2 separate regions of the Homo sapiens genome follow, and region 1 is linked to region 2. A link means that fine-mapping ties the variant in region 2 to the expression of a gene that starts in the linked region. Tissue or cell type: adrenal gland. Region 2 holds a variant in brackets; the other region holds the start of a gene. All regions are shown on one strand. Distances are from middle to middle.

Region 1 (5,148 bases), 220 kb after region 2:
TTCACCTTCTGCCATGATTGCGAGGCATCCTCAGCCACTTGGAACTGTAAGTCCAATAAACCTCTTCCTTTTGTAAATTGCCCAGTCTCAGGTATGTCTTTATCAGCAGCATGAAAACGGACTAATACAGAAGGGGAAAAGGCCAAGGTAAAGAAGGGAAGGAACATCCAAAACATCCTAAGGGAACATCCAAAAAATTTCAAATCAAAAGATATCTGTTGGGGAAGGATGAGACAGTCCATCAAAGAGAAATTTCCTTCTTCATCACCTTAATTATATACTGTTGTTTGTACCTCAAATTTTCTTCACTCCTTAGTAAGCATACTTTGCACCTAAGTGTTTGACTGGTTATGTATTTGTGTTAGGCCAAAGACACACAGTCCAAATGGATTATCAGAAATAAATGGAAAATTGGACAAGGAACTAAGACCAGATTGTATGAAGGAAAAATGTTTTATTCTTCAAGTGTTAACAATAGAAGTTACCACTAACAAATGCCAAATTACTATTTGATATGCCTAAATGGAACATGTATGCTAGCAAATGGCCATTACTCAGAACCAAGGACAAAAGTAAAATCCGGGTCAGAGTGAGGCATGAGGGCCCACTGGACGAGACTTTTCACCAAGCACACTGGATTCTCTTCCCTTCTTTATCTTGGCCTTTGTTCCCTTCATTAGTTTTGGCAAACCATGAAAGAAGATTATAAATGCTTCAATCCCAGTGGAGTTGGAAATAAAGTACATGAAAGAAACACTTAATAAAGAATGTTAATCTGTTTGTGTCATTTAAAAAAAAAAGGAAGGGGGTGTAGATAAAACATTTCCACAACTCTTCTTTAATAAATATCTTAAGTGTCCTTTTACAAAGCACACAGGTAAATTAATGTCATGGTTACAAGGACATCAAAAAAAAAATCTAACCACTACCTTTAATCACTATCTTTTGTTCTAAATTTTTTCTGACTATTTCTAAATCAAATCCAACCTTAAACCTATGACGATTATGCACTAAGTTTCTCTGAAAGCATATACTGTAAATTCTGAAAACAATTTCACAAGGCTGCTCCTCATATGGTTTATATAAGAGCATAATCATCTGATTAAGTGAGGGACAGCTCAAGGTGATTATTTTACAGAGGCCTCATTCACTACTATATACAAGCTCAAGAATGAAACTTCACATCCCTTACAATCCCTAGAGCAGTGTTTTATTTATAGGAGTTCCTCAATAAACACTTGCTGATTTGAATGCATTTAATACCTGAAAATGCTAGGACACAAACAATTTGCTGGGCTTTTTTCAAACTCCAAATCAACCCATTTTCATTACTCTCAACGCTCCTTCATGCCAGTTAACTAGTTGGATGTTTTCCATCACTCGAAAAATTGGCCATGTATATTCTGTTGCCAGGATAGTTTCCATTCTGCAGTGTCTCTCCTAAAAGGGGAGAAACTATTAAATCAAAATGGGGTAACCTCACAAGTATAACTATTACAACTTGTATAATAGCTCTTTTACTTCAAACAACAACGACAACAGAAAAAGACCTGTACCTTTTTAGTGGAACTTATGAATAGAATTATTAGCCCAGTAACTAAAGTTGTATGGTACACAATGGTAGAAGACAAGCTAAAACGACATTGGCCTGTAAAAGTTGCTTTCCTGACCTTTCTCCCTCTTCAAGATGGTTAAAGTCACACACGGACAAATGTTGATGTACATTTAACTTCTCAATGTTGATCCAAGGGGAGAAAAAATTGATCAATGTAGGTGTAATCTTCCCCTAAATGAGGAATATTAGCAAGGAAAAAACAAAAGGATATAGTGTCTGCCTGAAGGAATCCTCTTAGATATAAAATCACAACATTTGCTATGAAATAAACTAGAAAGTTTTAAATGCGTAATTACACGTGCCAGGAGTTATGCCCACGTTACTCCACAGGCCCACGCTAGTGGGTGCCAAAGTCAGAAAACCTGCAGCGGCGGTGAGTCACTCCCCAGCAGCACTCTGGGGAATAAGTGTTGGAGCCACAGCACGTACCCTATGGCGCAAGACCGCTGATTAGAACAGAGGGGAAAGGGGATGAGGAAAGAAGTTTCTTCAGCGCCCGCTCCGGGCACCAGCGCTGTCAAACCTGCCACTACGGAAGCCACAGAACCCGGTTACCCGAGTCACCCCGAGCCCCGCCCACTCAGGTTCCTCCCCGCCTGGGGCGGGGTTGGCGCGCGAGGGCCGAGGGGCGGCCCGTGTCCCGAGACGGCTCCTGGGAGGCGGGCTGCCTGTCTAAGTGGGGGTGGTGGGATTCCGGCGGTACCTGCGCTGGAAGTCCACGGCGTAGGGCTTCAAGTACGGGTCGATCTCCAGGAGTCTGGCCAGTTCGGGCACGTCAGCCAGGGCGGCATTGAGCGCCGCCTCGTAGTCCTCGGGCCGAGCCGCGGGAGTCATCGGAGCCGCCATATTCCGCCGCAGTCCAAGTAGCCGAGGCCCGAGAGGTCGAGTGGGGCCTGAGCGGGCGCTGGAGCTCTAGCTGGGACGCGGCGGCTAGGGCGGAGCCGGAGGGCGCCTAGGCGTGTCGAGGCAAGCCGAGGCGAGCCGCGGCGGTCCGGGGCCCTTTATAGCCGGGACGGAAGGCCTCCTGCCCTTTCTCCCCCCGCCAGCGGGGAGGAGCGGATCCCGGGGTGATGCCGGGACGCACGTCCGGAGCGGGTAGGAGGCACCGAGGCCTCTCCGCCCACTCACGCGGCTGGCACCTGGAGGCCGCAGGGACCTGCCCTTTCCTCCCCTTAACGGTTTTTTCCTGCTGGCGGAGGTCATTCTAGGAGGTGGGTCCCAAGCTGACCTCGCTCAGCCTTGGCCTTCCTCACCCTGACATATTCTTGGCTTTTCTTTACCCACTTAAGCACCCACTGACAGCGACCCCTTCAAATTGGACATAAGGGGTTTTTTTGGAAAGGACCGTATTTCTCAAAGTTCTGAGACTTTTGAGGGGCAGTATTTCAAACATATCATGTAAATTCACAGAGAGGGGAACAGTCAAGTGTAGCTAGAGTACTACTGCTGAAAATGTTAATACCTCTTACAACCAGGACTCTCCTAAGTTTGCCAGGTCACGTGAATTTAAAATTAACCAAGACACAGAATCCTGGAATACCGTTGGAATTCTGCTGTTCTGGTACTCTTTTCTGCATTACCAACAGCTAAGAATTTTAGCCATGGGAAGAACTTTTCTCATTCTCCGTAAGGCCAAAAAGGAAAAGGCATTTGCCTGTGTTTATAATTGTTAACAAGCTTTTCAACGATTAAACTACCTTTGATAACACAAATGATATCATTGAATTGGAACTCCACTCTGCCACTTACAGTGATAAGGCAAGAAACCTCTCTTCCTCTTGGCTTGGGAAGCTCCCACTTGGAATTCCCTTCTTTTATTGCCATTAACTGACTAGCTTCTATTTCAATAATTGCTTTTTAGGAATACAGAGTTGGACTCCAAGAGAGATGGACCCACCAAACCCAGGAGGGTCCAAGCTGCTTTACACCTAGAAACTAGAGAGGATTGAGGATATTTTTCTTGTTAAAACCCAGAACTGGAGGATCCTAGGGGTTATGGAGGAGAAACAGTATTAATCAGCCGTGGGCCTTGAATTTTAAAATATTTCAAAGGAAAGTTTTTATAAGGGGTTTCATAGACTTGAAAGATAAGTGGATATGAAGACAGACCTCAGTGTGAAAAAGTGAAGGACTTGAACGACTTTAAGACGTGCCTTGTTTTCCATAAAGATGACAAAAAACTGCTGCAGACATTTGTAAAATATAAAGCACTAAAAAAGGAAGAAAATTAAAAAAAAATAAAAACCCGAAGCAGGACAACTATTAATAACAGACCCACAGATCTACATCTCCAAGCCTAAACTTTTTTCAGAAACCCAGGCTTGTATCACTGCCTGTCTACTGAGATTTCCATTTAGCTGGCTAGGAGACCTAAACAAACTGTCTGCAAAACGTGACCTAGAATCCGTCTTCTCATCCTTCCTGCTGTCACTCTTATGCAGGCCACTGTTTTCCTTCACTTGGACCAGAATGTAGCTCTCTAACTGACTTCCCCTCTTCTACTCTTTCTCACCTCTACTCCATTCTCTGTACCAGTGTTTCTCACACTTTAATGTGCATATGAATCACCTAGGGATCTTAATTGAGTTCCGATGTGGTGCTTCAGATTGCATTTTTAACAAGCTCAGAAGTGATTCTGATGCTGGTGGTTGGGGACACAGTTTGGTGAGACTCTACACTGAGTAAATCAGACGATGTCATTTAGCAACTTAAATAGCATAGTATTTCACTTAGGGTAAAATAGAAACAGCTTATCATTCTCTAACAAGGCTTGTATAATCTGGACCCTGACTACCTTTCCAGCCACTTTTCTCATCATTTTCCAGTTTTACTATGCTCTAGTCACACTGACTTTCCTGGAACTCAGTGAATTTGTTGTATAATAGCCTCTAAGATTATTTGCTTGCTGTTCTCTCTGTTGGAAATTTTCAGGGAGCTGAGCTCTACTTGCTTAATTTTTTCCAAGCCTTCATTCCAGCCTCAGCAAAAATGTCACCTCATACCTGAGAAACTTCTGATTATAGACTCCTCAGTGTCTTCTGTATAACTTCAATCTCTTCTATGCAACAGTTAACAGAATCTAGGTGTTTGTTTTTCTCCTATTTATTGACCTTTCCCTTTAGAACCTAAGCTCCCCACGAGCACGATCCTAGCGTACATATCTGCCTACCTAGGTGGTTCACCATTGAGCACATATTTATTGAAGTCCCATGTGCCGGCCATTTTCCCACGTACTGTGGATAAATGATAAGACAAGTCCCAGTTGTCATACTCTATTGGGGGTAGGAGGGAGAGGAGACACAATTACCAGTGAAATACATAAAATAATACAAAACAATGTCAGATAGTGGTAAGTGCATTGTCGAGAATTAAAACTGAGCAAATATCTGTGTTAGTTCCGGTCGTCAAGAAAGGCCGTTCAGAACTGACATTTAAGCTGAAGTGTGATGACAAGAAGAAATGAGCCATGAGAGGAAGAGCATTCCAGAATGGCAGAGTTCGTGCAATGGAGGAATTGAATTGGTCTTTTAAAA
Region 2 (5,000 bases):
TGGTACCATGTGGAAAAAAGACTGGATATCAGGGAAAGTTGAATGATAGGAAAACTGGTATGGAATCCAATGTATAACAGATGATGAGATTCTGTGGAAACACAGAAAAGAATGATCGATTCAAATGGCATTTCTGAGATGGAAATAACAAGATTTGATGACAGACTGACTGAATGGCGACAGTGAGGAAAAGGAAAGTCGGAATGCAATTTTGAAGTTTTGAGTTCAGAAGGCTGAGTAGTGACAGTGTTAACTACACTAGAGGAAAACGGTGACAGAAAGTTTGGGGTAAGAAGATAATGAGTTCAATTTTAGGCCTGCTAAATTTAAGACACGAAGGAAACATCAGCATCTGTAGATTTAGAAGAACGATAAAAATAAGGTACTGAAACTCAAGAGAGAATTGTAGGTGGGGAGAAAGAGTAATTTATAAAGCCTCAATAAGCAAAGATAATGAGAGCCACCAGAGAAAAAACGCCATGGCCAGCATACCAAGGAACTGAAGGCAGAAAGAAGCCATGTTAGGGAAGACTGAGAGCAATGGTTAGCAGGGTAAAGGGGACATTAGAAGAAAACATAGAAGGCTAAGAAAAGTCCCAAGGATGGTGGTCAGTAGCATTAAATGCTACCGAAAAATAAAATCATAAATAAGAACTTGCTACATGATCTCCCCTCTGATGCAGAAATAAGATGGTGTAAAGCTATGCTTTTCAATCTATATTACATTCCAGAATCACCAAGGAAGGCTGTTAAAAATGTTCACCCCTACCCTCAATGATATGGATACATTACTTCTGGAGTGATTAGTAGGCTGGAATCTACAGTTTATCAACTTCTCCATAATATTTTAAAAGTAGTCAGTTAGACAACATGATGCCCATGGATACAGATTTCCAAGTTAGCAAGACTTGGGTTTAAATCACAGCTATGCCACTTATAAGTGATGTGAATATAGGCAATTTAATCTCTCTAGTGCTTGGTTTCCTCATCTGTAAAATCATCATTCTGAGGAGAGAACCAGCTGCCCATACAGGTAACAAGGATGAATCCAAAGGGTTGCTAGCTATTTGGCTCTTGTTCATACAGGTTTTCATGGAATGGCCTTATTCCTTTCTTTAAAGTGCTGAAGTTCTGCACAGATGCATTTATTCATATTTTAATAATACAAACATATATCCCAAAGCCAAGTATTAATGTGCTTTGAATCATCTACTGTTTTAGATCTTAAAAGACAGAATTGAAAATGAAAATAATGTTGTTACAAGACACAGACTGATTGGGTAAATCAGATTACTATGTTAGGAATCCTATATCCACCCTCATGAAAGCCTCACTATTCTACATGTTCACCTTGCAAAGCCTCTGAATAAGCTCTCAAAGGTTATTTGTAGTTTAACTGACAGTTGATTATATACCACTTAAAATTAACATTTTAGGCACTATCTAAAAGTAGAGTTCTGCTCTGGCTAGAACACTCCTGGCACCTGATGACCTCCCCAACTCCCATTTCTTCCTAGCCTGCTTGAAAATGTGACCTGAGGTCACGCTGTTGCTGCTTGCTATCTTTACCAACTGCCTTGGGTAGATTAATGAGGTGAAAACAACAAATTCATTTTCACTGTATAGTTTTGCTTGCTGTTAGTATCTTGACTTTGTAGTGGAGTTTTCAATAGTACAGAAATGAATGGTGAGTTTGACTAAAACTATCAGAGGACGATATTAACTCATCGCACAATCTGATTAAAAGCTAAGTAACTGCTCCCCAGGAAAACACATACACACACACACAAACACACACCCACCCCACGATACAGCCTCAGAGGGTTCATGGACTCCATAAAAATGTGAAATTACATTATTATCATTTATTTCTAACATTCCAGTGTGAAAAATTCACATGCTTATAATCTACAGCATAAATAATGGTGATGGGCTGCAAGTTGCCCCCCC[CG/C]CCACCTCGCCCAAATTCATATGTTGAAATATTAACTCTTAATGTGGTGGTATTTAGGTGATGGGGCTTTGGGAGGTGATTAGTTCAGGAGGGTTGAGCCCTCATGAACAGGATTAATGTTGTTATAAAACAGGCCCCAGAGAGCTGCCTTGTTTCTTCTGCTGTGGAGGATACAGTGAGAAGACAGCCATCTGTGAACCAGGAAATAGGGCATCACCAGATATCAAATCTGCCAGTGCCTCGATCTAGGACTTCCCAGCATCCAGACTATGAGAAATAGTTTTTGTTGTTTAAGCCACCCAGTCTATGGTGGTTTGTTATAGCAGGACAAACAGGCTAAGATAATAAGGACTGAAGAGTAGCATAATTACAATTAAATAGGTAAGGCATGTAAATTATTTAGAAGCATATACGATACATAGTATGTGCTTAATAAATATTGACTTCTATTACAATGTTTTATTTTTATTTTATTTATTAATTTATTAAGTAATCCACTCATAGAAATATTTTTAAAAATCACAATTACACACACAGATGTTACAAAATAATCTGTTTTTCTTTTGATAAACATTGTATTTATTTTTGTCTATATCCACATCTGTATATTTATATCTATATCTATATTGATACCTATACATACATTCATACCTATCTACCAACTACCTACAACTTGTTTTTGAACAAAGATAGACTTGCATTATATATTATTTTGAAATTTAAAATGAGCATTTTGCATATCAATAGGTATGCATCTCCATGATGGTATTCCATTGTGGACCATGTAATGAAATTTTATTTAACCAATCACCTTAAGTTGGTAATTTTGACTTTTTCTAATATTTCTGTGTTATAAAAAATCACCAGTCTTTTATATGTATCTTTGTACACCTGTCTGATATTTCCCTAACATAAACTGAATAAATATAATATCTGCTCAAAGGTAAACAGCAGATATTCTAGGATCAAACATTTCCCAAGTTTTGAACACTGCTCATGATTCGAAGATACAGGCACAAGTTAGTAGATTCTCCTGAAAATAATTTTCAACACACAAATTATATTTCTTAATGTATATGTTTAGGATTCTACTTTAAAAGTATTTTTCATCATGTATATTTAATGTTTCATTTTAGTGCCCTCTAAGATACATCAATTTAAAATATTTGTCATTTCAATACCATATAATGGTATTGAAAAATTAGTAAGCATTAAGAAAAAATTCATCTGGGGACTACTAGAGGCAGGAGAGAGAAAGCAGGGAGGGCTGAAAAACAACCTATTGGGTACTATGTTCACCACCTGGGTGACAGACATTCACACCCCAAACCTCAGTGTCATGCAATATATCCACATAACAAACTGCCCATGTACCCCATGCATCTAAAATAAAAGTTGAAATTATTTTTAAAAAGTAACTAATTTTTAAATGGAGAAATTTAATTACATGAGGTTAATTTCAGTACTTAGAAAAATCTGAGAAAAAGAAAAAAGCACACAAAATATTTGGTAATATTTGGTAATGTAACTCAATTTAAGATTTTGTTTATATTTTAACTTTTATTTCATTTATCTTTTTAAAGTATAAATTCACTACTTTAAGAGCATCTCAAGAAGCATATTCATATAATATGTAATATGAAATTAAATTTCTAAGTTAGAAAATAGAACTTTAATTTAAAAAATTCAAAATACGGTAATGATTCTATTTTATTAGAAAATCATTTATTAATCTCTATTAGACATTTAGATTTTCTGAAAATGTTCCTTCAGAGAGGCCTCTTTTTAGACTGAAAAATATAGAAAGTTGCATACAACAAAGAGAGACAGAAAAATTGTATCAGTGATTGTAGACAAAACATTCTACAGGGTGGCTCTGAATGTTTTCTCTGTTGTAAACGAGCTGACAAGGGGCAAATTAAGTTTAATGTAGACAAACGCAACATTAAATTTCATATTTGGTTCAAAACCATAAACACAAGCATAAAATAAATGGAAGCAAATCACAGAAAGACTTTCAAAGTGACCTTGGGATAATAGTGAACCATTCTTAAGGCCTGAGAGAGAAAACTGGAAAATGCCTGTTAGTATCTTCCACTAGCTCAAAGCTCACAAACCTAATGAAGAAAAATATTATCATTAAAACAAGTTAAGAATGTCCTTCTCAGCTATGGGCTACAAATTACTTAGGATATATGGCAGTAATTCAGACAGTACAGTGAAATATGGTGACCCAAATGAGCCTATAAGTAAGGGTGCTGTGTATAAGGGCTACTGTGTATAAAAATGGATCAGAAATCTAAATTTATTCAGGTGATGGCAAATAATATAATTGATTTATTTTAGCATAGATGACTTGACAGAATGCAAACAATATGATCTGAATCAGCATTTGAATTTAAGCAATATGTATATTCCTAAATTATATATGAATATGATAGGTACACATATGTACATAATACATTTATATGTTCCTCAATGAATGCAACAGGTGTTCACAACTTGGGGCTCATGCATTTCTAATGATTTTCTAATATTTCATGCAAAATGTTGTATGTATGTTCACATGCATTTTTCAGAGGAGAGAAATGTGTTCTTTGGATTCTCCAGGCATCCAAAGATTAACTGTATTTGTGAAAGAACCATTCACTATATTAGAATGCCAGCAACTAGAAGAATGGGTCACAAGTAAGGGCTTTTAAGCAAAATAAAAAAGAAAAGTAGAAAGCTAAGTTAAAGGAAGCATTTTTAAAACCTTTGGCTGGTTTATTCAACAGATAAGAGGCTTAGAAAAGTCACATTTAAACTAACTGTAGCGCACAGAGGCAATGACTGTGACAGTTAAGAACAATAGTTCTGAGTCCAAAATACGTATTACAAGTAATCTGGCACTAACCATCAAAGCATGATCGTTCTGCTCATTAAATTATGATTATGATCAGTAGTGTAATAGATAGAATGTTCCTCGATTCAAAATGAAGAGAGGATAATCATTTTTTGAGCCATCGCTTGGGACCCTTTCTAAGAGAATTCAGAATTCATGGTATGA

The links. PIP is the estimated chance that this variant, and not a neighbour inherited with it, causes the effect.
Region 1: GBE1 starts here. The variant in region 2 is fine-mapped to the expression of GBE1 in adrenal gland (GTEx, PIP 0.97).

What each region holds. Positions count from the first base shown.
Region 1 is chr3:81,759,057-81,764,204 of GRCh38, forward strand. GBE1 (1,4-alpha-glucan branching enzyme 1) reads right to left here and starts at 2,589. Exons shown (of 16, transcript NM_000158.4): 1 at 2,319-2,589. The coding sequence starts at 2,461. RefSeq lists enhancers at 1,868-2,037, 2,378-2,667, 2,454-3,062 and silencers at 2,138-2,217, 2,718-2,817.
Region 2 is chr3:81,539,508-81,544,507 of GRCh38, forward strand. The region is part of intron 12 of GBE1 (1,4-alpha-glucan branching enzyme 1); the gene reads right to left. Among named protein-coding and RNA genes, the nearest start is that of GBE1, 220 kb to the right of the region's middle. The variant CG/C (reference allele first, on the strand shown) is at 1,951.